Linked DNA regions of Homo sapiens. The protein of the gene in region 1 purifies or fractionates together with the protein of each later gene. This does not show direct contact. Each region holds a gene or a part of one and is shown in the gene's direction. Other genes may lie near its edges.

Region 1 (7,621 bases):
CACGTAGCTGGGACAACAAGTGCAGGCCACCATGCCAGGCTAATTTTTCTTTTTCTTTTTTTTTTTTTTTTTTTGGTACAGACAAGATTTCGCCATGTTGCCCTAGCTAGTCTTGAACTTCTGGGATCAACTGATCCGCCCACCTTGGCCTCCCAAATTGTTGGGATTACAGGCATGAGCCACCGTGCCCCACCTATGTCACTTTTAGTCTGTCCCTAGTTCAACTCCTGCCTAGTTCAACTTTTGTCTGCTCTGGGACCCCAACTCCCAACCTGGAATTTGGTATCTGTCCCTTTCCTCTCTGCTTTTCATCCTCCAACTCTTCTCATCCCCAGGCCTGGGCCGCACCCACTCATCCAGACTCCTTCCCCTCTCGGCTCCGACTCCACCTTTTCCACTCTGACCCCTAAGCCCAGCCTACCCCCACCTCCGCGCCCCAGTTTAGCCGTTCTGGGCTTGGTTGCACCTCCCCGCCCGGGCCGGGGGTCAGGCCCCGCCCTGCTCACGATCGGTGTTTTTCAGCGACTGCTTCTTCTGCGAGGGCTTCGAGATGACCTTGATAAGGCGGCTGTGGAAGGTACCCAGCTCCCGGCCCCCGCGCAGCACCAGCCGCAGCACCAGCCGAAAGTGCTTCCTCTTGTCTGCATCTGAGATGTACAGGGTCTTGGCGCAGCCGAATTCCTAGGGGGCTCACAGGTACAGGGCCATCTCATCCCAGCCCTCCCCCGTCGGATGAACCAACCTCTCCCAGATATCGGACGTCCGCCCCGTCGGAGGTGACCAGAAGCTCCACCATCCAGGCTCTCAGGCTCGGCCTTAAGGCAGGACCCCGGCCTCCCGGTCTCCCCACCTATCTCTTGGCTTTCGGAGGGGAGTAAAGGAGCCCTCCTTTCCCAGGAGAGGCAGGGATGGGAGCAGGAATCGGACCCCTTCCCGTGCGCTCTCACCCTGGAGTCCGGCTGCTGCTCGAAATTCAGCTTCTGCGTCTCAGTGGCGCTGCCGGACGCGCTGTCCAGTCCCATGTAACCGCAGACCGTGGGCCCCGTTTCCCCCGCCTGGTGAGCTGGAAAGGGACGCGAACTGGCTCTGCAAGGACTCGGGAGGACGCAGGTGCCAGGCAAGCTTAGCGCTCGCCGCCAGAGGGCGCGGGGAGACTGCGCCTGCGAACCGCCCCGTCTCGGGCCCAATCTCGTGGTCCTCCCTACAGAGCAGGCGGCCGGCAGCCCTTGATTCCGCCCTCACCTTGATCCTGCCCTGGCTTCACCCTCCAGCCAGGCCCCGAGAGGTAGACACAGGGCGGGGGGCAGAAGAACCTGCGGAGATAAGTGAGTGTTGGAGTCGTGCATCCATCTCCACTTGGCTCTCCTGTAAGCACGGCAAGGTAGTAGCATAAACCCAGCAGAACCTTCGTTTCCTCCTCCCGCTCCCCGCAACGCTTTTTCACGACTGTAAACCCCATTCATAGCCAAACCTTATTGTTTTTACACCCCTCATTCAACTCATCAGAAGGTCCTGTCCACTCCACCTTCAAAATATAATATATCCAGAATCCACTGGCTTTTTACCACCTCGCCCTTCATCCCAGCCGCCATTACTTTTTGCCTGGACCACAGCATCAGCCTTCAAACTGGTCTATTTCCAGAAAGTTCTGTTTCTATCTCCTTCCCATTTCGCACAGCAGCCAGAGTGCTCCTTCCTTCCTTCCTTCCTCTCTCTTTCTTTCTTTTTTTCTTTCATTCCTTCCTTCCTGTTTCTTTCTTTTTCTTTTTCTTTTTTTTTTTTTTTGAGGCAGGGTCTTGCTCTGTTGCCCAGGCTGGAATGCAGTAACTTGATCTCGGCTGTCTGGGCTCACTGCAACTTCTGCCTCCCCAACTGATCCTCCCACCTCGGCCTCCTGAGTAGGTGAGACTACAGACACAAGCCACCACACCCATCTAATTTTTGTGTTTTTTGTACAGACATGGTTTTGTCATGTTGCCCATGCAGGTCTGGAACTTCTGGGCTCAAGCAATCTGCCCACCTGGGTCTGCCGAAGTGCTGGGATTACAGGGATGAGCCACCAGGCTGGCCAGAGTGTTTTGTTAAAAACATGAGTCAAATCATGTTAACTCCTTAAAATCCTCCACTGGTTTAAAATTCAAAGTCCTCCTGAGATCTGACCCCTGCTTACCTCTCTGACTTGTTTCCTACAACTCCTCCCTCTGATTTCAGCCACTGTCATTTCTTTTGTACCTCAAACAGGCCTAATTGGTACAGCCTCAAGGTCTTCCCATTTTCTGTTGCCCTTTTTTTTTTTGAGACTGAGTCTTGCTCTGTCGCCAGGCTGGAGTGCAGTGGCATGATCTCGGCTCACTGCAACCTCCGCCTCCCGGGTTCAACCAATTATCCTGCCTCAGCCTCCTGAGCAGCTGGGATTACAGGTGCCCGCCACCATGCCCAGCTAATTTTGTATTTTTTGGTAGAGAGGGGGTTTCACTGTATTGGCCAGGCTGGTCTCGAACTCCTGACCTCAGGTGATCCGCCCGCCTCGGCCTCCCAAAGTGCTGGGATTACAGGTGTGAGCCATCGCGCCCGGCCCTTCTGTTCCTTCTAATTGTAGCACGCTTTCCCCAGATATTCTCCTGTCTGGCTCCATTTCAGCATTCAAGTTTCAGTTCCAATGTTACCTCCCAAAAGGTCTCTCAACCTCCTTGACCTTTCTAGCTAATGTCCCCCCTGCCTTCAGTTTCCGTCAAATGGCCTCGTTCAGTTTTCCTTCTAGTGCTCATCATAATCTGCAAGTATCTTGTTTCCTGACTTGTGGGGAGTTTACTGTCTGTCTCTTCCACACTTGAGTGAGAGTGTGGGCTACAGAGCAGGGGCTGTTTCTGTCTTGTTCAGCTGTATGCCCAGTGCCCAGCAGTACCCACAGAGCCTGGTGCATACATGACAAACACTCAGTAAGTAGTTGTTGAATGAATGAATAAGTGAATCAATGGGAGAATGAGTGAATGAATGGAGACAGGAGATTCACAGGGAATCTCCTGCTGTAGAACTATAGACCAAAGTGGGGGCTAATGGTGGCTGAGGGTCAAGGCCCTGGTCGACCAATAGCTGAGATCTCAGCCCTGAGGCCTGCTCTGCGTCTAAAAGAGGCCCAATGGGTGGATGGAGGAGGTGCATAGGGCTGACAGTTGCAGAGACCTGGGAGGGGCTGCGGAGGCACCTACCGCTTCTCATTTCCGTATGATTTCTGGGCCACCTTGGCATGCAGGATCCGCACAGTCTGTTCACACTGTTGCTGCAGGCACCTGCGCACGCCTCCCCTCAGAATGGTGGTGTGCTCTGGGGATGACCTGGGAGTAGGGCAGGCAGGTCGACCAGCCACAGGAGGGAGAAGGGTCAAGGTGGCACAGGGTCCAAGCACTCAGGTTGAGTAAAATGAAGTGAGCAGGGGGTTAGAGTGAGTGGGAGGGTGGGGCTGCTCTATATCCTGCCCCTGTGGGGTCAGGAAGAGGAAGCATTAGGTAAGGAGGAGACTTGGCTGCAAATTGTAGGCTAAATATTTAGGCTGCAAGGTGCTCAACGAAGCCTGCATGGAACCCATGGGACCACCCAGGTTCCACTCTGTGGGTCTGGCATCATGCCCATTGGAGCCCAGGGCCATAGGGACACGTGGCTGTGACACAAAGGCTGCACTTATACTGGCCTTGGGATGGAGAAGAGTATTTTAGGGCTGATGGAATTGGTAGAGATGAAGCTTCCCCACCCTGGGGAAGGCAGGGTGGGGGGTGAGGAGGGAGGGGAAGGGAGAGCCTTTCCTGGGCTCCTGGCCTGGAGCGCTCTCTAGCCTCCTGCCTGCAAACAGAAAAGGGCCCAAAACCTTGTCCTCAGGATGGGGGATGGCCTGGGGGAATCTGAGCCTTTCTGGGGCCAAAGCCATATTCTTCCCTTTCTCCCATGAGAAGTGGCCTGTTGCTGTGTGGGCTTTCCTACCCTTGATTACAGGAGTCAAGGCAGATGACATTGGTCCTGCAGAGTGAGCCAGGTTAGAGCCTAGAGGTCTGGTGGCTTCTTAACCTGGGGGTCTTGAGCGGTGTGGGTGGGTAGGCCCGAGCAATTGCAGGGAGCAAGTAGAGGAGGGGAGGTGGGAGAGATTTGGGGGGTTAGCAGGTTGAGGCCCAAGGAGAGCCATGAAAACTGAGGCTGTCCTTCTGAGCCCTTATTCCTCTTGGCAGGACCAGAGTCTCTCCTCACTCCTGGAGGGGACAGCGCAAGACCGCACCCTCGAAAGCCAGGCCAGACAGGCAGCAGCCACAGCCAGGACCGCTCCACCCCTTGGGGCTCTCCTCAGGGAAGTGCCTTCTAAGCTTCCAATGAATTCCGGCTGTGGAGTGTGGCTGCCCCGGTCTCCCCAGTCTCCCGCTGTAGCTGAATTCCAGCCTGGCCCGCAGCTAGCCCTGTCTGCAGCTCCAAGCGTGGTAGGAGCAGGGGGTGCTGGGTTTGCCCCCCCTCAGGAGGAAGGGGGGATCCCTCCCTGCCAGTGGGAGGGGTTGCAGCCTGCACTTCCCCTCCCCACCCGCCAGCCCTGGGTTAAATGCGGCCGTTGCCTCTGTGTGCTCCAGCTGCCTGGCAGTCCCCACCTAGGGCACGCTGCCACGCCGCCGTTACCTGGTCCAAGTGCCCGGGAGGCTCCGCCTGTCGGCTTCGCTCTGCAGCTGCATCTCTGATCTGTCCTGCAGGCTCAGGTGAGTCAAAGGATTGGGAGGCACTGAGGGGTCTGCAGGGGAGTAGGCATCAAGCCAGGTCAGGCGAGTGTATTTTAGCAGAGACGCTGCCTAGGGTGCCCTATCTGATTTGCAGTGCCCTTCCCCACTTCTGCAGGGTCCTTTCCAAATCGAGCCCCCACCCTCAAAGCCATCAAAATAGGATCATCCCTTTTCTACTCTCATCCCTCCAGGAACCCCCTGAAATGTCCCTAAGGGACTTTTGAGAATTTATTTACAGGCCTCTCCTCCCTTGCTGCTCCACTCCCTCAACCTCACCTCAGGGCATCTCTGAATCTTTCTTTTTTTAATGCAAGGATTAACTCCTCAGAGGAATCCCAGGTTCTAGTATCAGTCCTGCCACGACATCGCCATGTACCCTTCAGCAAGACACTACCCTCTCTGGACCTAGTTCCTTTCTTTGTAGAATGAGGGGTTTGGAAAGGTGATGAACTTTGAGGCATTTGCTATTTTGACTTTCTAGGATTCCTGGGGTGGAGGCAGGGTGCCAGGTGAGAAGTTGGCTCAGACCAAGAATGGGATGAGGGGAACCTTAACCAAGATTTAGGGGCCCAGAGGCATCTCCGGGTAGGAAAGTATGGGAGGTGGCAGAGGCCCCTTGTGCCTTAGCCCTCATGCTGTCCAGGGATGTTGGCTTTGCCTGTGGCCCAAGCTTGACAAGGGTTCCCCGCCCTCCCACTTCCACCAGCGCTGCCACATCTTGCTTGGTCACCCTCCCACGACGGGCCCTGCCAGAGGATTTATGTTCTTCTACCAGGCCTGGGAGGGGAAAAGGGAGAAGAATCCGGGATGAGAAGGTCGCCTGGAGTGAGAAGCAGGCACTGGCCTCGCTCAGAATAGGCGCATTCACGGAATTGGGGGGCGGGGGCGGAGCTGCTGTTGGGTTAGGGGCAGCTGGCCCTCTCTGCCAAGAAACAGCAACAGAAAAATGGCTAACACAGCTTCAGCATGGGGCGCGGCGGTGGGGTAGGAGCTGGAAGGAAATGAGGTTTAGTGAATTCTAGGCGCCAGGGGGCCTCAAGAGAGAGAAGGGGAACCAGGAGCCCTAGGTTCTAATCCTGCTTTTGCAGTTCGGCGGGCTGCCTCCTTGGGGCTTAGTTTTCCTATTTGTATAGTGGGGAGGGGGTGGGGGGGTGGTCCTTCGTAGTTCTCACGGGGCGTCTCCGGGGCCTCGGGAGGGTAAGCGCTCACCTGCTGCCCCTGCGGGGTCCATGGTGGCTCCACGGGGCCCCAGCCGCTCACCCGCCGCCCTCTGGACGAGTCCAGTGCTGCTGTCGCTGGAACCCTGCACACCCCTGCTCCTCGGCTCTTGCGCGGGTTATATCCTGTCCAGGCCTTATCTCCAAGGCCCCGGGCCCCGGCCCCCTGTTTGCTCGGGGTGGGCGCACCTGCTGGGCAGATGTGGGCTTCCCACGCCCCCTGCCATCTCGGGCGCCCCCTGGCGGTCGCTCCTGAGAGCAGGCGGGAAACAGGCGCCAAGCCGCGCGTTCTCGTGCGCAGTGGGTTTTGGTCCACTCGCTGCCACGCCACCACGCTCAGCCCCGCAACAGGGCGCAGCCCCTCCCTGCCGCCTGCGGTTGGGCAGTGCATGTCTGTGTTTGTGTGTGTGGAGGGGTCTGGGGGGGTTGGCGAGTTGCAAAGACAGCCACACAGAAGCCTGTGTGCGTAGGGGAGTGGGCCGAGGTGGGGAAGGGCTTCTGTCTGCAGAGGTTCGCCTGGCAGGAGGAGAGGCACCAAACGCCCAGGCTGGCTCACAGAAACTAGCAGGCGTGGGATTGTATCCTGCCGCAGCCACTTTTTGGCCGAATGACTTTGGGTACCAGCGCTTAACTTTTCTGAGCCTCAATTTCATTGTCTGTATGATGGGGGACAATCACAGCCTTAGTCTTACAATTGCAGAGAGGATTAAATGCCACAATGCGTGAAGAGCATTTAACACTGTGCCTGACATTTAAGGAAGACCTGTTTTTTTCTGTTTAAATTTTGCATATTTGTATCTATGTATCTATTCTTATTTACCATTCTCTTGTGGGCCGAGCGCGGTGGCTCACGCCTGTAATCCCAGCATTCTGGGAGGCCGAGGTGGGAGGATCACCTGAGGTCAGGAGTTTGAGACCAGCCTGACCAACATGGCAAAACCCGCTCTCTACTAAAAATACAAAAAATTAGCCAGGTGTGGTGGCAGGAGCCTGTAATCCCAGCTACTCGGGAGGCTGAGGCCGGAGAATCGCTTGAACCTGGGAGGCAGAGGTTGCAGTGAGCCGAGATCATGCCACTGCACTCCAGCCGGGACGACAGAGCAAGACTCTATCTAAAAAAAAAAAAAAAAAGAATCTCTTGTGTTTCCCAGCAATCCCACTGTGATGAGAATTTTTTAATTCTGAAACATTTCAAACATACACAAAAATAGAGAGATTAGTAAAATAAACCTGTAACTGTCTTCCCCCTCCAAGTGCCTATCACCCAGAATAAGAGCTCTGTAAATACTGTTGCTTTTCTATTTTCCTTCCTCCCTCCAGGCTCTGACACCTCCATTCTCTGTCCCCAAGCGCCATGAGAGGCCTTCTTTGCTGGCCCGTGTTGCTGCTCCTTCTTCAGCCCTGGGAAACCCAGCTCCAGTTGACAGGTGAACTGGGGCCCAGCCCTCACCAGTGGGAGGAGGGGAGCGGAAGCAGGTCCTCCCTCTGCAGCCAGCTCCTCCTGCTGGGGAGAGGGAAGCAAGGGCTTTGGAACATATGGGACTGGGTTTAAGTTCCCCACTTCACCTTTCTGGGCCTCAGTTTCTTCATCTGTAGGATGTGGCTTAGTTTTGGGCGCATGCAGAACTGCCCATGGGGTGTTTAATTTGGAAAAAT
Region 2 (7,111 bases), on another chromosome or scaffold:
CTCTAACTCCTGGGCTCAAGCAATCTTCCTGCCTCAGCCTCCCAAGTAGCTGAGACTACAGGTGCATGCCACTGTACCAGGCCTCAACTCTTATTCTTAACAACATGCCTCGGATGAGTAAAGTATGTTATACACAAAAAACTAGGGCAGGGAAATACCAGATCACTTCTGGAAAGCCCTGCCAAGCCCAGGGTGGTAGAGACAGGGTTTTTGCTTAATCCCTGGCTGCAGTTCCTGGGTAGGAGGGTCAATATGGAGGAAAGAATCTCCAAGGACTGTAAGAGTAGGGACAAGCCAGGATTGGGCGGAGGTGTCAGAAAGGTCTTACTTTCTGGATTACTGCCTAGCACACATGAAGCCCTTGCAGGACAGACTGCCAAAAGCTTGGTAGAAGGCTGTGCACCACTTCGCCAGCCTTCAATCAACATGCACCAACTGCAAACCAAATGACAACATCTCCAAGTATAAAAATAGGATGCTACCTTGTGTTCTCATCATATTTATACAGAATCAAAAATAACCCAGACAAAACCTCAGAGCTGCTTGTCCCACTGGCCTGCTTGCAACTGTGTTTGTACCTGGGGTCTCTCCAGGAGCACCTGGGGTCAGGGTTCCAGCTACTGTCTCCACAATGATCTCCATGTTCCCTGGTCCCTCTTCAGTTGCTGTGGCCTCTACCAGCAGGCAGCCTGGCTCAGTAGGTATAGGTGCAGGGTCCCGGGAAGGACAGGGGCTCTGGACAGGCCCCAGGATTCCACGGTTAGAGAGAGGCGGGGGGATCAGCAATAGCTCAGGGCACAGTCCATCCATCTCCCCGGTGCTACTGGCTGGCTGTGAGTCCAAAAGGGGGTCTGTCATCACCACCGACTTGTGTGTTTTGGCTTCTTAAATGCTGACAAGCCAACCAGAAGAAAAACAAAGTAAGGTTAGAGTTCTTACTTTCTTCCTGGCTGGCGTGGGTACACAGCCCAGTGCCCACCCACTTAGGCATTTTCTTGCATGGCAATATGCCATATATACCATATGAGACTAAATAGAGGCTTTCTTTTATGATAATGTTCAGAACAAAAAGTATAAAAATGATAACAGAATATTAGGAGACAGCCAACAAGTATTGGCCAATATATTAATGACTGCAGGTTGTCTTCTGCTAGCTAAGTGCCCTTAGCCAAGTCATTAAGCAATTTGGGTCTCAGATTTCTTATCTGCAACAAAATTAGGTGGGGCCCAAATATCTCAGAAGTCCTTTTTTTTTTTTTTTTTTGAGACAGAGTCTCGCTCTGTCACCCAGGCTGGAGTGCAGTGGCGTGATCTTGGCTCACTGCAACCTCCGCCTCCTGGGTTCAAGCAATTCTCCTGTCTCAGCCTCCCCAATAGCTGGACTACAGGCATGTGCCACACACGCCCAGGTAAATTTTGTATTTTTAACAGCGATGGAGTTTCACCATGTTGGCCAGGCTGGTCTCGAACTTCTGACCTTGGGTGATCTGCCCGTTTTGGCCTCCCAAAGTGCTGGGATTATAGGCGTGAGCCACCTTGCCTGGTCCCTTTCCCTCTTAACCTTTGATAATCTCACTATTCCTCAGCATGGATTATAAGGAAGGCCCTTCCTTCATCATCTGGCTCCTGCTGACCTCCCCTGACTCATCTCCCACTTCTCCCCTCAGCAGATCTCTGAACCAGATGATGTGCCATTCTCCAGACCCACCACATTCTCTTTTGCTTTCATACCCTCACAGCCTTTTGCGTCTCTTGGCTTGATATGCCTTTTCCCCTTCTCAATCTCTCTCTCTTATCTGGCTAACCAATTAACTATCCTTGAAGAAGCTGCACAAATGTCACTTCCACCATGAAGGCCTCCTGACATTCTTTTTTTTGAGACAGTCTTAGTCTGTCACCTAGGCTGGAGGGCAGTGGCACGATCTCAGCTCACTACAACCTCTGCCTCCTGGGTTCAAGCGATTCTCCTGCCTCAGCCTCCTGAGTAGCTGGGATTACAGGCATGTACCACCACGCCTGGCTACTATTTTGTATTTTTAGTAGAGATGGGGTTTCTCCATGTTGGTTGGGCTGGTCTTGAACTCCAGAACTCAGGTGATCCACCTGCCTCGGCCTCCCAAAGTGCTGGGATTACAGGCGTGAGGCACCGCGCCGGGCCTGGCTTCCCGAAACTCTTATCTTCTCTCTTCTGGCGTCCTAAGGGCACTCTGTACACAGCCCTATCAGAAACGAGGTCACACTGCACTGTTGTTTACCTGTCAGTCTCTCTCCCTAGATGTATAGCTTTTTTAGTAATTTGTTGACATTATCACTTCAATGATATTACTTTGTGATACTGACATTATCACTTCAACGAACACAAATCACCCACAATCGAAGATTCCAGTGAAGAACCACAGATATGGAGCTGCATTGGAGTAAAGCTAGGTATCTTGTACAAAACCAGTGGTTCCTCACCTATAACGTAACACATTTGGAGAAATTTCAAACTCATTAACTGACTATGGCCTCAAACTAAATATGGGAACATAACTGAGGAATGAATGACAATTGAATTGCATACCCTGTTATACATGGCTAAAATGAGTTTAAGCTGAATAATTAGTAATTAATAAGAATGATGGGAATCACTTCATGAAATTGAGTCACAGACAAGATGCAAAAAGAAAAAAAGAAGAAGAAACCAGGCCGGGCGCGGTGGCTCAGGCCTGTAATCCCAGCACTTTGGGAGGCCAAGGCGGGCCGATCACCTGAGGTCAGAAGTTCGAGACCAGCCTGGCGAACATTGTGAAACCCTGTTTCTACTAAAAATACAAAAAATCAGCAGGGTGTGGTGGCACACGCCTGTAATCCCAGCTACTCGGGAGGCTGAGGCAGGAGAATCGCTGGAACCCGGGAGGCGGAGGTTGCAGTGAGCCGAGATCGCACCATTGCACCCCAGCTTGGGCAACAAGAGCGAAACTCCGTCTCAAAAAAAAAACAAACAAAAACCAAGATCCTGCAATCTGATAGTCCCTATTTCCAGAATCCCATGGACTCAAAACAACAGATCACAGGGATTCACAAGGTGGCTGGAAAGTGCACTCCCGTGGTCAGAGGGATTCTCTGGAAACTGCAGCCTCCACTTACTGAATATTATCGCTGTTCTGGGGAATCTTCAAGCTTGACCATACATGGCCTCCGGGGGGAGCCAAGGAGGACGCTGAGCCGTCAAGATTAAGAACCTTCACCTGCGGGAGGGCAGGGTGAGGTAGGAGACAGGTGGGCACCAGAGAAGAAATACGCTTATCTTCCGGGCAGGAGGGCTGAGGAAGAGAAAGGACAGACTAAGGCAGAGAGAAGGCCTGGAGAAACAACGGGCCCCGGCCTAGCGACCCAGGTTCCCACCTGCCTCTGGCTCTGACTCACCGCGTGGTCTTGGACAGACACAGTCGCTTCGCTTCTCTGGGCCTCAGCTTTCCTATCTGTAAAATGGAGGTGATGACAGTGTCCACATCGTCGGGCAGGAGCTGGATCATAAGAGCCAGCGAACTGGAAAGGCGGTTTGTAACCTGGAAGGCTTGGGATGGAGCATCGTCATGATTTTGTCCTGAGAGCAGCAGGTACCCGGGCGGGGTCCAGAACCGTGACGCGACTGCAGCGCCGGGGCCCAGCTCGTCTGGGTGCTCCCTTCAGTACCTCCTTCCGAGAGTTCCCAGCGCCCAGGCCCACCCTGATCCCGGGGCTCGAAAAACTTTGCCTCCAGCTCGCTCCACCCGCATTCCCTTCCCAGTTCCGCCCCGCAGCCGCTCACTCACCTCCAGACCCAGAGCCGGCGGGAGCCGCATCTCTATGGTCGGCCGCGGCTGGAACGGCCCCCGGGGCCCGCTTTGTGCGACCGCCTCCGGCTCAGCCGCCTCTAGGATATTGGGGATGTGGAAGCCACTCTCTCTTCCTCTTGCCGGCTGCCGGGGTACTCTATGTTTTGTCTCTGTGGTTTTTCCCGCCCTCCACCCCCACTCCAGCCCTGAAGCCGGAGAAGCACCATCGAGAGCTCTGGGGTAGAGTGGCGTGGGCTTCTCTGTGGGTGTGGCGGGAAGTAGATGAAAGGACCCGGGGCGGGGCCGAACGCAGCTTCCCCAAGGTGCAGGCGCGGTGAAACCATCGAGACGGAGGGCCAGAGAGTCACGGCGGTGAGAGGGCTGAGTGACGGGTTACCCCAAACCATGTGGCTGGAGGCGCGAGCTGGGGTGTGGGCGAGGTTCAGGAGGGGGTTCCTGGGTGTCGCGGAGGGGCCGGGGACGGGAGAGCTTTGTCTGTGGCCTTCCATGCATAGGTGTTTTGGAATTCTGGATCCCAGTTCTGAGGCTCAGCCGAGGTCACTGCTGTCAGCTCACCTCCCTGCATGCCAGGCGCAGGGCAAAGTGGCCGGGGTTCGGGGTTGGAGGAGAGGTGTACTAGAAACAACTTTGCTCTTGTCCCTCAGGATCTTATTGTCTACGATGTGACGATCCGTGGAGAAAGTAGCAGATGGGCAGATTTTCATTTGGGGAGAATGAGGGAGAAAAGAACGGGCATTCCGAGCCAAGAGCACTGCATGAGCAAGGAGTTGGGAGGTTGCTTACTTGTTGAACATATTTGTTGCGTATTTGCATATTTGCTAAACAGGTAGTGTTAGGAGCTAATCCATGAAAGGTAGGTGGGCGCCGTATTGTAGAGAGCCTTGAGTACCAGGCTGAGTTTATACCCAATTCAGGGGTCTGCTGGGAGCCAGCCATTGAAGGTGCTGGAGCAGAGAGAGATATGGTATTGGAGCTGATCCCTATGATGAAAGATCTGGACCCTTGTGTAGATGTTCCGTGAAGCAGGAGGTGAAGACCTATTAAAATGCCATTTCAAGAACTACGATTTTAAAGACAGTTTAGGTGGGAGGTAATAAAGGTCTAAACAAGACGTTAAATATTGGGGACGTAAGGGGGAGGATATTTGAAGGACATTACTCATAACAAGACATAGGGTTACTGACAAGTCAACGGACGCTTCTCCCTTGCTGACTGCAGCCAATGGACCCCTTTTTATCATAGCTGGTCCCAGGGACCACAAAAATCCTGTCCATCCATTACCCTGATGTGAAGCCTGTTTATATAGCTCTTTTTGGTTTAAGGCATCTCCAGACATGGTCCTCTGGTAGGAAACAGGTATGAGTAGACTAATGAAGGACAAAATGGGATGAGGGACCTGGAGCCTCCACCCTTGCATTCCAATACCACCCTTACCCCACAAAAGGAGGGTATTGACCCACACAGTAATGCTGACCTGTGGCCAGGGCTGGGGAGGTCCAATTTCTAATCTGTGCTTTGTCCCATCTCCACTGTTCCCCACCCCTAGGTTTTCGTAACACCCCAGGGCCTGTAAGGTTTGGTGTTTCCCTTTCAAGATGCCACTTTCAGACTTTATTCTGGCTCTGAAGGACAATCCCTACTTTGGGGCTGGATTTGGGCTGGTGGGTGTGGGCACAGCCCTGGCCCTGGCCCGGAAGGGTGTCCAACTGGGCCTGGTGGCATTCCGGCGCCATTACATGATCACACTGGAAGTCCCTGCTCGAGACAGGAGCTATGCCTGGTTGCTTAGCTGGCTCACCCGCCACAGTACCCGTACTCAGCACCTCAGTGTCGAGACTTCGTACCTTCAGCATGAGAGTGGCCGCATTTCCACTAAGTTTGAATTTGTCCCCAGCCCTGGAAACCATTTTATCTGGTAAGGTGGGGAGCTAGGGAGGGCTGTGAGAGTAGAAAAGAATGATGGGAGCTGGGTTTGACCCATTCACTCACTCAGTTTTGATCGTTCTTATTCAGGTATCGGGGGAAATGGATTCGGGTAGAACGAAGTCGAGAGATGCAGATGATAGACTTGCAGACGGGGACTCCTTGGGAATCTGTCACCTTCACGGCCCTGGGCACTGACCGAAAGGTTTTCTTCAACATCCTGGAGGAAGGTGTGGGATGGCACAGGCAGGCTTTCTAGGGACATTGCAGGGATGGGGACATTTGACATCAGATGAGCAGTTTGGAGAAGTGGAATAAGCAGGCCGGGGTGAGCCCATGGGAACAGGGGGCCAGAAGGAAGCTGTTTGGCACAGCTCCACCTAATTGAAGAATCAGCCATGGTGAAGAGAATTATTGGCTTTATCTCATCTTCTCCTTCCCAGCTCGAGAGCTAGCCTTGCAGCAGGAGGAAGGGAAGACCGTGATGTACACAGCTGTGGGCTCTGAATGGCGTCCCTTTGGCTATCCACGCCGCCGGCGACCACTGAATTCTGTGGTTCTACAACAGGGTCTGGCTGACCGAATTGTCAGAGACGTCCAGGAATTCATCGATAACCCCAAGTGGTACACTGACAGAGGTGAGAAGCAGCTGGGGTCTTGGCTGTGCTGTTTTTGACATTTTTAGAAGGGACAGGTTGGTCTCCAGCCAGATGGGGTGATATAAAGCTCTAGTCCAATTCCCAGAGATTAAGAGGAATGAAAAGTTGTGTATGAGAATGATTTATTTCCGTACCAAGGTTATCAGGCTTCCAGGGGGCAGGGCTGGGAATGAACGTAGATATCCGGGGCAAAAGACATGATCATCCTGGCTCTATCCCTAGGCATTCCTTACAGACGTGGCTACCTGCTTTATGGGCCCCCTGGTTGCGGAAAGAGCAGTTTTATGTGAGTATTCAAAATTTCTCTCAACTTGGCAAAACGAAGCCTTTGTGGAAACACTAGGCTGATAGGGTTGGAAGGGGAAATGAATCTGGGGATCGGGGACCAGGATAAACATGAAACGTGTGGAACATCAGGGTGTGAGGTAGAAGTCAGGCCTCTGAGACACATGTCCCCAGGCGGTGAGGAGAGTAGCTGGGCCTGAGGAAGCATTTCCAGGTTGCCTGCTACCTCCTGCCATCCCATGCTCCATAGCACAGCCCTGGCTGGGGAACTGGAGCACAGCATCTGCCTGCTGAGCCTCACGGACTCCAGCCTCTCTGATGACCGACTCAACCACCTGCTGAGCGTGGCCCCGCAGCAGAGCCTGGTACTCCTGGAGGATGTGGATGCTGCTTTTCTCAGTCGAGACTTGGCTGTGGAGAGTA
Region 3 (7,826 bases), on another chromosome or scaffold:
AGTTGTAATGCCAGCAGTTTGGGAGGCCAAGGTGGGTGGATCACTTGAGTCCAGGAGTCTGAGACCAGCCTGGGCAACACAGTGAGACCCTGTCTCTATAAAAATAGGCCAGGCATGGGCCAGGTGCAGTGGCTAGTGCCTGTAATCCCAGCACTTTGGGAGGCCGAGGTGGGCGGATCACGAGGTCAGGAGATCGAGACCATCCTGGCTAACATGGTGAAACCCCGTCTCTATTAAAAAATATAAAAAATTAGCCAGGCACGGTGGCGGGCACCTGTAGTCCCAGCTACTGGGGAGGCTGAGGCAGGAGAATGGCATGAACCCAGGAGGCCGAGCTTGCAGTGAGCCGAGATAGCGCCACTGCAGTCTGGCCTGGGCAAAAGAGTGAGACTCCATCTCTAAAAAAAAAAAAAAAAAAAAAGATTGCAATATATGATAATCATTTTTAAAGTATTTGATTAAACCTGATAGGTTTTCCGGAAATGGAAAAAAAAATCCATTTTAAAACCAAGCTGATTTTTAGAAAATTTCAAAATGTAAATCAGCCCTATCCAGAATATAATTTATTTAAAACTTTATCTTAAGGAGTCATTTTATAATAGTATAACTATTAAAAAAGTAACTGTTATTTTAATGTTTTGAAATAAAACATTTTAAAATATGAATACTGTAGCTTAAAAGAAAGAAACTGGAGAAGGAAAAGTAGAGAAAGAAATGCCAATTCCAGTCCAAAGTTTTATTTGTCAAGTTTTCTTAGAATAACTTTTACCTATTTACGAATTCTTGTAAATAGAATTTATAATGGAAATACTGAAAGACTTTTGCCTAAAGTGTCATTATCGAATACTGCTGTGATGTTACTGTAATGTAATAAGTTATTGTTGCAAAGTGCTGTTTTTGACTTAAAATTTTATTTTGTGTGTCTTGAAAACCATAGTATTAAAGGTATCGAGATTGTGCAAGTGCTGGGCACACTTGGCATGGGATAATGTTTTTATTTTTACAAAATTGTAATATAACTATGCAAGTGTTTATTAAAAGAACACAAACTGAAAAGGTTATGGGATTAAAAAAAGTAATGGGATTAAAAAAGTTATGAGATGTTCTGCACGGTGGCCCACGCCTGTAATCCCAACACTTTGGGAGGCCGAGGCGGGCAGATCACCAGGTCAGGAGATCAACACCATCCTGGCTAACACAGTGAAACCCGTCTCTGCTAAAAATATAAAAAATTAGCCAGGCATGGTGGCACACCCCTGTAGTCCCAGCTACTTGGGAGGTTCAGGCAGGAGAACTGCTGGAACCCAGAAGGTGGAGGTTGCAGTGACCCGATATCGCACCACTGCACTCCAGCCTCGGCAACAGAGTCAGACTCCGTCTCAAAAAAAAAAAAAAAAAAAAAAAAAGTTATGAGATTAAAAAGTTATGGGATTTTTAAAAAGTTACATTATGGGATAAAAAATGTTATGAAAAAAGACTGAGGAAAAAAATTGTGGGAAAAAAGTTGTGGAAAAAGTTATGAAAAAAAATTATTCCAAAAAAAGTTTTATGAAAAGCTATGGGATTAAAAAAAAAGTCATGTGATAAAAATTAAATAAAAGCAGGCCACTGTCAGCAAAACCTGGGGAAGTGTCCAATGGGGGAAACAGGTGCAGATGAGATGAAGATTACTGTCATCCAAAAGCAGGGAACTAGGCCCGGCGTGGTGGCTCGCTCCTGTAAGCCCAGAATTTTGGGAGGCCGAGGTGAGCGGATCACCTGAGGTCAGGAGTTCGAAACCAGCCTGGCCAACATGGCAAAACCCTGTCTCTACTAAAAATACAAAAAATTAGCTGGGCATGGTGGTGCGTGCCTGTAGTCCCAGCTACTCAGGAGGCTGAGGCAGCAGAATTGCTTGAACCCGGGAGGTGGAGGTTGTAGTGAGCCCAGATGCACCATTGCACTCCAGCCTGGGTGACAGAGCAAGACTCCATCTCAAAAAAAAAAAAAAAGTTATGGAAAAAACTTAGGAAGAAAAAGTTATGGGATAAAAAAAGTCATGGGATAAAAATAAAAATAAGGCTGGGCGCGGTGGCTCACGCCTGTAAGCCCAGCACTTTGGGAGGCTGAGGCAGGTGGATCACCTGAGGTCAGGATTCGAGACCAGCCTGGCCAACATGGAGAAACCTCATCTCTACCAAAACTACAAAAATTAGCTGGGAGTGCTGGCGCATGCCTGTAACTCCAGCTGCTCCAGAGTCTGAGGCAGGAGAATCGCATGAGCCTGGGAGGCGGAGGTTGCAGTTAGCCAAGACAGCACCACTGCCCTTCAGCCTGGGCAACAGAGTGAGATTCCGGGGGGGAAAAGAAGGAGTGTAATGTAATGCCTCACTCATCTTCTTTAAGCAGCAGTGGGAGTAAATCCCACCACTTTAGGGCAACCTCCATCTCCCACTGCAGCCAAGATTCAATCTAAGGGCGTTAGTGGGAAGAAAGGCTCAGCATAAAATACCATATGAGCTCTCAAAGTCCAGTGTGAGCATAGCGTGTTTTTTGTTTTTTGCTTAACCTTGTATTATACAGCTTTTCAAACATAGAAACGTAGGGAGAAGTTCAGCAAAGTGGCATGTGCCTGTATTCCAGCTATCTGGGGGGCTGAGGTGGGAGGATCACTTGAGCCCAGGAGCTCAAAGCTGCTGTGAGCTATGACTATACCTCTGCACTCCAACCTGGGCAACAGAGCAACACTCCATCTCTAAATAAAGACGTAGAATACTAAAATGCAATAAACCCCCATGTACCCATCAGCTTTAACAATTAACAAATGGCCAATCATTTTTTAATTTTTTTATAGACATGGGGGTCTTACTGTGTTGCCTAGGCTGGTCTTGAACTCCTGGGCTCAAGCAATCCACCTGCCTCGGTCTGGGTTCACAGGCGTGAGCCACCGTGCCTGGCCCAATCTTTTTCCTGAATGTTCCTACATCTCCCCCTGGGTTATTTTAAAGCAAATCCCAAACATATTTTAGTTTTTTTTTTTATTTTTTAAGAGACAGATCGGGCCAGGCATGGCGGCTCATGCCTACAATCCCAGCATTTTGGGAGACTGAGGCGGGAAGATCACCTGAGGTCAGGAGTTCAAGACCAGCCTGACCAACATGGAGAAACTCTGTCTCTACTAAAAATACAAAATTAGCTGGGTGCGTGGCACATGCCTGTAATCCCAGCTACTCAGGAGGCTGCAGCAGGAGAAACGCTTGAACCTGGGAGGTGGAGGTTGCAGTGAGCTGAGATCGTGCCATTGCACTCCAGCCTGAGCAACAAGAGCGAAACTCCATCTCAAAAAAAAAAGAGACAGAACATATCACTGCACTCCAGCCTGGGTGATAGATAAAGCCAGACCTTGTCTCAAAAAAAAAAAAAGAAAAGAAAAAACAAACGGTGTCTCACTCTGTTGCCCAGGCTGGGGTGCTGTAGCATGATCGTAGCGCACTGCAGCCTCAAACTCCTGGGCTCAAGTGATCCTCCTGCCTCAGCCTCCCAAGTATCGAGATTAAAGGTGCCCACCACCATGCCTGGCTATTTTTTATGTGTTGTAGTTGACCAATCTTATCTCAAACTCCTGGCCTCAAGCAACCCCCCGACCCCGACCTGGACCTCCCAAAGTGGTGGGAATTAGAGACATGAACCATTACTCCTGGCCAAATTATTTCACCTGTAAAAACTTCAGTATGTATCTCAAAGAGATAAGGACTTGTTTTTAACAGAAATACAAGCCTGTATGACATAGAAATACAAAAAATAATAATAACATAGAAATACAATACCTGGCCCAACGTTGTGGCTCACGCCTGTAATCCCAGCACTTTGGGAGGCCAAGGCAGGCGGATCACTTGAGGTCAGGAGTTCGAGATCAGCCTGGCCAACATAATGAAACCCCGTCTCTACCAAAAATACAAAAATTAGCCGGGCATGGTGGCACTCGCCTGTAATCCCAGTCTACTCGGGAGACTGAGGCAGGAGAATCTCTTGAACCTGGGGCGGCAGGGGGGTTGTGGCGCGGAGCTTGCAGTGAGCCGAGCTCCTCCACTAGGCAAAAGGGCGAGACTCTGTCAGGAAAAAAAAGAGAAGAAAAGAAATACAATACCCGAAAAGTTTTAGTAATTCCTTAAATCAGTTATCTTTGAATTATTATCCAAAAAAGATCCACACATTGAAACATTTTGTTGATACATCTCTTAAATCTCTTTTATTCTGAAGTGTTTTCCCCTCCCACATTTCCCACTTTGCCATTTTTTTGAAGACGACAGATCATTTGTCCCATATAATTTCCTACATTTTGGATATGGTTGATTTCATACCTTTGGTGTCTTAACATATTCCTGCTAATCTCTATATAGCCTATAAACTGGTAGTTAGATCTTGAGGCTTGATTAGGTTCAATTTTTGGCAATAGGTGATGCTCTGTATTTCCTATGCATCTCACCAGGAAATGATATGATGGTATGATTGATCAGAGTTGAGGTATTGTTAGCTAGCCTGATGCATTCATTATGTCTTTTTTTTTTTTTTTTTTTTTTTTTTTGAGGCAAGGTCTAGCTTTGTTGCCCAGGCTGGGGTGCAGTAGCGCGATCGCAGTTCACTGCAACCTCCGCCTCCCTGACTCGAGCGATTCTCCCACCTCAGCCTCTGGAGTGCTGCGACCCCAGGCGCCGCCACCTAATTAATAGACGCGTTGCCTCCGTTTTTCAAATGTCCCTTTCAGGACGCCGTCCCCTTCCTGGTACGCGAAGCGCTGGGAGCGAAAGGGACTTCCGGGAGATCTAGGAAGTCGCTTCTTTTTCTGGTAGAAGGCGGGGTTCTCCTCGTACGCTGCGGAGTCTCTGCGGGGTGTAGACCGGAATCCTGCTGACGGGCAGAGTGGATCAGGGAGGGAGGGTCGAGACACGGTGGCTGCAGGTCTGAGACAAGGCTGCTCCGAGGTAGTAGCTCTCTTGCCTGGAGGTGGCCATTCATTCCTGGAGTGCTGCTGAGGAGCGAGGGCCCATCTGGGGTCTCTGGAAGTCGGTGCCCAGGCCTGAAGGATAGCCCCCCTTGCGCTTCCCTGGGCTGCGGCCGGCCTTCTCAGAACGAAGGGCGTCCTTCCACCCCGCGGCGCAGGTGACCGCTGCCATGGCTTTTCCCCATCGGCCGGACGCCCCTGAGCTGCCTGACTTCTCCATGCTGAAGAGGCTGGCTCGAGACCAGCTCATCTATCTGCTGGAGCAGGTCAGTGCTTGCCTGACGCCTTTATCGCATCTACAGTTTAGCACTCATTGGATGCACATTTCTTCCTTGCCGTGCCCCTTTGATCTTGTTCTTGGCCCCTGGTATTGTCCTTGGCGCTTCCCCAGCAGGTCCAGAATGAATCCAGGGAGTAGTAAGAGCTGTTTGGAACCTGGCCAGAGAGTTAATGGAAATCACCCCCCAACCCCGCATACAGGCAAGGGAGACACCATTAGTGCCAGGCATCCCTAGGGACGGAAAGATGGTTAAGACATCTTTGCCATTAGGGATCTTACCACTCCAGTAGGAGCTGTATGAAGCACAAATTATCACACACAGGTGGTAAATGAGTGATAGAGCTAGTGTACCCGAAGAGTTCACAGTAAGTGATCATTTCTAGTTGGGGTGATGATCTAGGAGCTTCAAGGAAGTGAGTGTGAGTAATAAGCATATTTTCTTTGGAGACTAAGCATGCTCCAGGCAGATAGATTGGTAGGAGCAAAGTTGGCAAACCAGGGAAAGACAAGGCATGTAAGGGAAGACACCCATCAGCAGTTACACAGTAGCCACTGAAAAAAATTTTTTTTCCATTTGTGGCATGAGACAATACTTGATGATTCTAATAGTGATGTGTGTGGTGGCGTAAATGGGCAACAAGAAGGCCAGTTAGGAGACCGTAGATCAGACAAGAAATAAAGGCCCACACAAAATTGGTAGCAGTGGGAATGAAGGAAAGTGATGGATTTTTAAGTTATGGTGAAAGAAAACTCAAAGACTTACTGATTGGTTATAAATGTTGAAGGAGAAGCAAAAATGAGTGAGATTTTTAACCTGGGTTATTAGGAAAATAATACTGCCACTGTGATTTTAATGGATTACTTGTGTAATCATTTAGTTATTCATTTTATGTCTGTATTCCTCATTAGACTGGAAGGTGGGCAGGGATCATGTTTGTTTTGTTCAACACTACCTAGTGAGTACCTAGCTTAGAGTCAAGCACACACCATGTGCTTAATAAATATTTGTTGTATTAACATTGAATAGAAATGAGAAAAATAATTAGAAAAAGGAACAGGTTTGATGGGGGAAGTTGATTTGTTTGGGTTTGGATGGGGGAAGTTAAGATGCCCGTAAGAAATATAGCTTGTAACATCCAGCAGATAGAAATGTAGAACTGCAGCTGCATTGTGAGGACTGGAAGGAAGATGGATCAAGATGAGAACTGCAGGGCATCTTAGACCAGATTTTATTTCTATTTTATTTTATTTATTTTTTTGAGACACAGTCTCACTCCGTTGCCCAGGCTGGAGTGCAGTGGCGCGATCTTGGCTAACTGCAACCTCCACCTCCCGGGTTCAGGCGATTCTTCTGCCTCAGCCTCCCCAGTAGTTGGGATTACAGGCGCACGCTAGCCCACCTGGCTAATGTTTGTATTTTTAGTAGAGATAGGGTTTCACCATGTTGGCCAGGCTGGTCTCAAACTCCTGACCTCAGGTAATCTGCCCGTCCCAGCCTCCCAAAGTGCTGGGATTATAGGCTTGAGCTACCACTCCCGGCTTCTTTCTCTTTAATACTTAGTGCTTGCACAGTGACATGCACATAAAAGACTTGCAACAATGTCTGAAGAATTTAAAAGAGGTGCTAGTTAAAGCCACTAGTTCAGGTGAGATCAAGTAGAGGAGACCAAGAAGAGAAACTTGAGCCCACTGGGTGATTCAGCATGGCCAAAGTGGATTTCCAGGCAATAACGTCCTCTCCTAACTAACTTCTGACTTAATTTTTGTTAATGTGCACTGCTATTCAGCTTGAAATATCAGAATCATCTTTGCCTCTCCTTCACCCTGATACTTAACTGAACCAGTTGCTGAGTTCCATGGATACTTCTTTACACATAACTTTTTTATGGTGATTATAAAATAACACTTGCACATTATAGAAAATGTAAGAAGATTAAGGAAAGTAAAAAGGAAAAGAAAACTACTTATAGCCCTACCATAAGTTATAAACACTACTAACACTGTTAATTTCTTTCAAGTATTAAAAAAAATATTAGGCTGGGTGCGGTGGCTCATGCCTGTAATCCCAGCACTTTGGGAGGCCAAGGCAGGCAGATCACCTGAGGTTGGGAGTTCGAGACCAGCCTGACCAACATGGAGAAACCCCATCTCTATTAAAAATACAAAATTAGCTGGGCATAGTGGCCCATGCTTGTAATCCCAGCTACTCAAGAGGCTGAGGCAGGAGAATTGCTTGAACCCAGGAGGTGGAGGTTGCGGTGAGCCGAGATCGCGTCATTGCACTCCAGCCTGGGCAACAAAAGCGATACTCCATCTCAAAAAAAAAAAAATTATATTACACATTCCATGTATCTCTTAATCTATGTTTGCTCACACCACCACCAGCCTAAATCAGGCCTCTTTCATTGCCACATGCTTGCGCTCTGTGGATGGTTTTATTAACTCCCTAAGTGGACTCCCTGCCTCCTGTTTCTCTGGTCTTCAGATTCCTCTAACATTTCCAGCTGATTGGAATGCTTCAATACACAAAAGCTTTATTTTTCCCTGTTAATTAGAGGATCAAGG
Region 4 (7,105 bases), on another chromosome or scaffold:
GGCTGCTGAATGAGGGGGAAGGGCACATTTGTAGCAGCTTCTCTTACTCATGCTTTGTAGACTTCCTTTCCTGTCACAGCTCTTGGTATTTTTCCACTCCAACCCAGGGGAAGCCATTCTCCTGTAAATATTACTCCCTCTTTAAACTCCAACCTAAAGTGATGGTGAGGCTTCAGTTTATATGGCCTTCCCTTTGACTTTTTTTCTCAAATATATTTAATTGTACAATTATATCCTTACTGTGTAGCTGACTGGTAGCTCAGTATCACCAGCAGTCTGAAATAGAATCTCATAGCCTATTAAATAAAACTGTGGCTCTCAGCAGATTTCTAGCATGTGGTTTTGGCTAATCTCCTGGAATATATTGGAGAAAAGTACCAAGAGACATTTCAGTTGCTCTGTTCCTAAACAGTACCAAAATAACTTGAGTGTTTTGAACACTTTCAAATAAACAGCATGGATCAAATTTCAAAGGAGAGACTCATGGAAAGGTAACTTTCACAATCCCTTTGTTCCTTGCCTTTGCTCTGATGTCACAGGCTGCCGGTGTTACCATAGCATGAGTTAAATTTCCTGTTTTCTCTCGAATGAATGTATTTGACTTAGTGTCTGGGCTTGTTTTATTTCCTTGGGCTTAGTAAGGACACTCAACAGTACTCTCAGGTAACCTTTTTTTTTTTTTTTTTTTTTTTTTTGAGACGGAGTCTCGCTCTGTCACCAGGCTGGAGTACAGTGATGCGATCTTGGCTCACTGCAACCTCCGCCTCCCGGGTTCAAGCAATTCTCCTGCCTCAACCTCCAAAGTAGCTGGGATTACAGGTGCCTGCCACTGCGCCTGACTAATTTTTGTATTTTTAGTAGAGATGGGGTTTCACCATGTTGGCCAGGCTGATCTCGAACTCCTGACCTCAGGTGATCTGCCCATCTAGGCCTCCCAAAGTGCTGGGATTACAAGAGTGAGCCACTGCTCCCAGCCACCTTTTATTTTTCTTTGAGAGAGGGTCTCACTCTGTCACTCAGGCTGGAGTGCAGTGGCATAGTCACAGCCTACTGCAATCTCAACCTCCTGGACTCAAGCGATCCTCCCACTTTAGCCTCTTGAGTAGCTGGGACTACAGACACATGCCAGTATGCCTGGATAATTTTTTTTTCTTTTGTAGAGCCGGGGTCTCACTATGTTGCCCAGGCTGGTCCCGAACTCCTGGGCTTAAGAGGGCCTAAGAGAAATGAAAAGGCATTGCTCTGGCAAGGCTGAGGAGCAGTATATCTGCACTCGATTTTGGTTAGCTCTGAGAACCATGGTAATTTGTGAATTCTAGCCACCTGTTACCATGTGAGAAGGAGTGGGCCTTGTACTCTTTTCTCCAGTTTTTCAAGAAAAGCCAGAAATTTGCACTTTAATGGGAAATCTGTGTTGTTTTAAAATACTGTATAGTGACACCATTGAAAATGGTGGCATAGGACCTCCAAAAAAGGAATGAGAACTGTATTAGTCTGTTCTTGTACTTTTGTAAAGACATACCTGAGACTGGGTAATTTAAAAAGAAAAGAGGTTTAATTGACTCATGGTTCTGCAGGACATACAGGCTTCTGCTTCTGGGGAGGCCCCAGGAGAATTATAATCATGGCGGAAGGTGAAGGGGAAGCAAGCACGTCTTATATGGCAGGAGCAGGAGGAAGACAGCGAAGAGGGAGGTGATACACACTTTTAACCGGATCTCATGAGAACTCTATCATGAGACAGCACTAGGGAGATGGTGCTGAACCATTAGGAACAACCCCCATGATCCAATCACCTCCCACCAGGCCAGACCTCCAACATTGGGGATTAAAATTCAACATGAGATTTGGATGGGAACACAGAGCCAAACCATATCAAGAACATTGGCAAAAATGATCAGAATCAGCTTTTTCAGAACTCTGGAAATTAACCAAAGGCTTGCAGCAATCTGGGGAGCATTTATTCAAGAAAAACATTGAATCTCAGTAAGAACATTAAGAATTGTGGCATTTTAACTTGCCCTGTTCCCATGCTGCCTTTTCCCAGATCAGCTGTAGCCTGGACAACCGATAGCCTGCAATCACAGTGAAACCAGGAGGCTGGCAGTTACTGCAAAAGGGAGAACAGAGGTGATACTCCTCATAGACCATCCCCAGAAAATTGTCATTTGACTGGTCTGATGGTTTCCTAAAATTGTCCATTCACAAGGCTGTCTTTATTTGACCAACACAAGTCAGTAAGGAAAGAATAGTCTTCAGTAAATGGTGCTGGGATAACTGGATATCCACATTAAAAAAAAAAAAATCCCTATCTCACACCATATATGAAAATTAACTCAAAATGGACCAAAGTCCTAAATGTAATGCTGAAACCATATAACTGTTAGAGAACATAGGACTGGATTTTTGCGACCTTGGGTTAGGTATTGGTTTCTTAGCTATCCCATCAAAATCATAAGTGACAAAAATTAAACTTGACTTAGCTAAATTAAATACATCTATGTTTCAAAGAGCACTATTAAGAAAGTGGGGGCCAGGCACGGTGGCTCACGCCTGTAATCCCAGCACTTTGGGAGGCTGAGGCAGGCGGATCACCTGAGGTCAGGAGTTCGAGACCAGCCTCAACATGGAGAAACCCCATCTCTACTAAAAATACAAAAAAAAATTAGCCGGGCATGGTGGTGCATGCCTGTAATCCCAACTACTCGGGAGGCTGAGGCAGGAGAATTGCTTGAACCTGGGAGGCGGAGGTTGTGATGAGCCGAGATTGTGCCATTGCAGTCCAGCCTGGGCAACGAGAGCAAAACTCCATCTCAAAAAAAAAAAAAAAAAAAAGAAACTGGAAAGACTTCATCAATGTAATGAAAAACCAAAAAAAAAAAAGAGAAAAGGTAAAAAGACTGCCCATAGAATTGGCAAAATATTTGCAAATCATATACCTGATAAGATTCTAGTGTTCGGCAAACATAAATAAAATAACAACCGTAAAAAGACAACCAAATTTAAAAATTAGCAATAGATTTAATTAGCCACTTCTCCAAAGAAGTTATACAAATGGGCAGTAAACACATTAGTCATTACGGAAATGCAAATTTAAAACTACAATGGCCGGGTGTGGCGGCTTACACCTGTAATCCCAGTACTTTGGGAGGCTGAGGCGGGCAGATCATTTCAGGTCAGGAGTTCAAACCAGCCTGATCAACATGGTGAAACTCCGTCTCTACTAAAAAATACAAAAATTAGCCGGATGTGGTGGCACACTCCTGTAGTCCCAGCTACTCAGGAGGCTGAGGTGGGAGAATCACTTGAACCTAGGAGGTGGAGGTTGCAGTGAGCAGAGATTGTACCACTGCACTCCAGCCTGGGCAACAGAGTGAGACTCTGTCTCAGGGGAAAAAAAAAACCACAAAACTACAATGAAATACCATTTCACACCCACTAGGATGGCTATGATAAAAAAGATAGACAATACCAAGTATTGGTGAGGGTGTAAAAAGATTCGACCTGTCATACACTACTGGTGTGAATGTAAAACTGCAGCCACTTTGGAAAACAGTTTGGCAGATCCTCAAAGTTAAATGTATAGTTACTGTGTCCTCAAGCAAATCCATTCCTATGTATATACCTAACAGAATTCAAAACATATATTCACACAAACTTTTTTTTTTAGACAGTCTCGCTCTTTCACCCAGGCTGGAGTGCAGTGGTGCAATCTCGGCCTCAGCCTTCTGAGTACCTGGGACCACAGGCAAGCACCACCATGCCCAGCTAACTTTTGTATTTTTAATTTTGCCATGTTGGCCAGGTTGGTCTCGAACTCCTAGCCTCAAGTGATCCACCTGCCTCAGCCTCCCAAAGTGCTAGGATTATAGGCATGAGCCATTGCACCTGGCCACACACAAACTTATATACAAATATTCATAGCATTATTCATAATGGTCAACATGTGGAAACTCAAATGTACATTAATTGAATAGGGGAGGAAAATTTGACATATCCATATAATGGAGTATTATTCAGTCATAAATGGAATGAAGTACTAATTTATGCTACAACATGGATGAACCTAGAAAACATGCTAAGTCAAAGAAGGCAGACACAGAAGGCCACATGTTATATGATTCCATTTATATGAACTGTCTAGAACAGGCAAAGCCATAAAGACAGAAAGGAGATTAGTGGTTCCCAGGAGCTGGGAATGACTGCTAAAGGGCATGGGTTTCTTTCCGAAGGGTGATGGGACTGTTGTAGAATTAGGTAGTGTCGATGGCTGCACAACTTCTTGAATATATTAGAAAGCACTGAATTATAAATTCTAAAAGGATGAATTTTATGGTATGTGAATTATATCTCAATAATTAAAAAACTAGGCAATTGTGATCAGTAAGGAGATATATATATATATATATATATATATCTGAAACTTCTGAATTGCTAATATTGATCTGTTTTGTGACTTGGGTAGTAATTATAGGGTGTTTACAACTATCTGTTATACTTATGTAAGTTTTATGTGTTTATATTTTATGAAATATACAGTAAAGACACATTACAAATCATGTCTGTTGATAGATATCCATCTTTTCAAGCTCTAGTTTTGGGCATTGAAAAGAGATGAAACTGGCATCTCTGAGGTGCCTTTTGAACAGTGTCATATCTTTGGGACAAGAATTGGTTGCTAGGTTGACTCAACAGCAAATATCAGTGATGTTTCTGAAGAGACTGTAAGGCTGTATGATCCACCAAACCTTCTGCCTCTGCCATTCACACTCTTCTATTAAACACTTAGCAAGGCATAGTGGCTCATGCCTGTCAGCCCAGCACTTAGGGAGGCCAAGGTGGGAAGATTGCTTGAGGCCAGGAGTTTAAGATCAGCCTGGACAATGTAGCAAGACCCCATCTCTACATTTTTTAAGAGTCTATTTCCACAGCAAGGAAGAAATGAAAGTACAGCACCTGTCCCATTTCCCACAAAAAAGTCTTTGCCTAGGGTCTGCATATGTGACTGGAAGCTAAATTATTGGAATGAGCTTGTTTGTTTAAGGTTATTAAAGTTCTGGGTTCTTTGACTTCTAAAGTCACTCTGATATGTATTTGGAAGAGTAAATGTCTAGCAAATTGGCTTTATATTTCCTTTAGAGATCTAGCAAAGACCAAACCTGCTTTGGACCTCATCTGTGCCACAGTGCCCTTGGGGGATGGGCCACCTGTAGCAGAGGAATAGGAGCTGAGGCATGAGCTGATAAGTGGCATCACTTTAGGGCCCTCTCCAATCTCACCTGGAATGTCACTAATAGTGACCTATTTCTTTGGGTTCAAGCTTTTCATTTTCTGGGCCTCCTTTATATTGCAGATTCTTTTATTTTATAGATAGGTCTCACTATGTTGCCCAGGCTGGAGTGTGGGGGCTATTCACAGACATAATCATAGTACACTACTGCCTCAAACTTCTGGGCTCAAGCAAGCCTCCTGCCTCAGCCTTCAGGATAGCTGGGATTACAGATGTGCACCACTGTGCTCGGCTGCAGATTCCTTTTAGGAGGTGAATACATAATCAGTAATTTGCTAATGCCTTAGTAAAAACTTAGTGATGTGCCTGCATAGAGGGAAATCTATAATAGACACTATTGGGATTTGGCAAATTTCAATGTAGCCGTATATTTCCCATTTATGACAGCAAAGATTTTAACTTAATACCTCTTATTTAACTTAATACCTCTTATCAAAAGTTTTTTGATACTTAACATTTACCATCTTCTAGACACTGTGCTAGGCATTTGCTATTATCCCATTTTCATAATTTGTAAAAAGCAAATTTTGACCACCTCAGCCATTAGGATGGCTACTATCAAAACAGAAAATAAGAAGTGTTGATGAAGATGTGGAGAAATTGAAACTCTTTTACACTGTTGGTAGGAACATAAAATGGAGCTGCTATGGAAAACGGTATGGCAACTCCTCTAAAAATTAAAAATAGAATTACTATATGATTTAGCAATTCCACTTCTGGGTATGTACCCAAAAGGACTGAAAGCAGGATCTTGAAGTAGTTGTGTACCCATGTTCACAGCAGTATTAACAATAGCCAAAAGGTGGAAGCAACCCAAGTGTCCATTGATGGATGAATGGACAACCAAAATGTGGTACATACATATAATGGACTATCATTCATTCTTCAAAAAGCAGGGCTGGGTGGGGTGGCTCATGCCTGTAATCCCAGCACTTTGGGAGGCTGAAGCAGGAGGATTGCTTGAGTCCAGGAGTTTGAGACCAGCCTGGGCAACTTAGCGAGTCCCAATCTCCACAGTGGGGGGAAAAAAATTAGCCAGGTGTGGTGGTGCATGCACATAGTCCTAGCTATTCAGGAGGCTGAGGCAGGAGTATTGCTTGAGCCCAGGAGGTTGAGGCTGCAGTGAGCTATGATCATACCACTGCATTCCAGTCTGGCAGCATGGACAACAGAATAAAGCCTCATCTGTTTAAGAAACAAAACAAAGAAACCTGACATATGCTGCAATATGGGTGAACTTTGAGGACATTATGCTAAGTGAAATAAGCCAGTGACAAAAGGACAAATACAGCATGATTCCATTTATATGAAGTTTTTAGAGAAGTCCAATTTATAAAAACAAAGTGGAATATCAGTTACTAGGACTTGGTGGGAGAAGGAAATGGGGAGTTAATTATTGCTTAATGGGTACAGAGTTTGTTTTGCAAGATGAGTTCTGGAGATGGATGATGGTAGTGATGGTAGTGTCCAATCAACTTCTCAGTCTTCTCGGCTCTTACTACAAAGGAAGAAACTGTACTACCCAGATTTCTTTTTTAATAGAAATGTTATTTATAGTTAATAACGAATGCACTGCATAAAAACTTTATAGTTTCATTATTGTGAAATGTGTTCAAGATCCTACAGTAAAAGTGAAACATTCCCAAGGACTTGCGTTAGTGAAGACTACACAGAAAACCTTTCTAAGGATTTGTGTGGATCCGATAGATACTTGGCAAATTTTTGAGTTGTACATTCTTACAGAAAGTCCACTTAAAAGTGATCATTTGTAAGACAAAAATATAAATAGTTTCAAAAATCTTTAAAAAATCATCC

The links.
Region 2: the proteins of MATN4 (region 1) and BCS1L purify together in Homo sapiens (affinity purification with mass spectrometry; 2 studies listed by BioGRID and IntAct, with this or other methods). This does not show direct contact.
Region 3: the proteins of MATN4 (region 1) and VPS33B purify together in Homo sapiens (affinity purification with mass spectrometry; 2 studies listed by BioGRID and IntAct, with this or other methods). This does not show direct contact.
Region 4: the proteins of MATN4 (region 1) and ARG2 purify together in Homo sapiens (affinity purification with mass spectrometry; 2 studies listed by BioGRID and IntAct, with this or other methods). This does not show direct contact.

Annotation. Positions count from the first base shown.
Region 1 is NC_000020.11:45,305,281-45,312,901, reverse strand, and holds the start of MATN4 (matrilin-4 isoform 1 precursor), read left to right. Parts: upstream 1-4,602; 5' UTR 4,603-4,650; coding exon of another isoform or gene 4,651-4,759; intron 4,760-5,957; coding exon of another isoform or gene 5,958-5,979; exon of another isoform or gene 5,980-6,062; intron 6,063-7,285; 5' UTR 7,286-7,319; coding exon 7,320-7,392; intron 7,393-7,621. Other genes in the region: RBPJL (recombining binding protein suppressor of hairless-like protein), read right to left, coding at 507-681, 948-1,063, 1,243-1,313, 3,210-3,335, 4,651-4,759, 5,958-5,979. UniProt on the Homo sapiens protein: Major component of the extracellular matrix of cartilage.
Region 2 is NC_000002.12:218,655,572-218,662,682, forward strand, and holds the start of BCS1L (mitochondrial chaperone BCS1), read left to right. Parts: upstream 1-4,111; 5' UTR 4,112-4,172; exon of another isoform or gene 4,173-5,367; 5' UTR 5,368-5,416; coding exon 5,417-5,736; intron 5,737-5,834; coding exon 5,835-5,974; intron 5,975-6,187; coding exon 6,188-6,382; intron 6,383-6,625; coding exon 6,626-6,689; intron 6,690-6,938; coding exon 6,939-7,108; intron 7,109-7,111. Other genes in the region: ZNF142 (zinc finger protein 142), read right to left, coding at 579-858. UniProt on the Homo sapiens protein: Chaperone necessary for the incorporation of Rieske iron-sulfur protein UQCRFS1 into the mitochondrial respiratory chain complex III.
Region 3 is NC_000015.10:91,019,575-91,027,400, reverse strand, and holds the start of VPS33B (vacuolar protein sorting-associated protein 33B), read left to right. Parts: upstream 1-4,806; 5' UTR 4,807-5,151; coding exon 5,152-5,247; intron 5,248-7,826. UniProt on the Homo sapiens protein: May play a role in vesicle-mediated protein trafficking to lysosomal compartments and in membrane docking/fusion reactions of late endosomes/lysosomes.
Region 4 is NC_000014.9:67,622,866-67,629,970, forward strand, and holds part of ARG2 (arginase-2, mitochondrial precursor), read left to right. Parts: intron 1-3,001; exon of another isoform or gene 3,002-6,475; intron 6,476-7,105. UniProt on the Homo sapiens protein: May play a role in the regulation of extra-urea cycle arginine metabolism and also in down-regulation of nitric oxide synthesis. Extrahepatic arginase functions to regulate L-arginine bioavailability to nitric oxid synthase (NOS).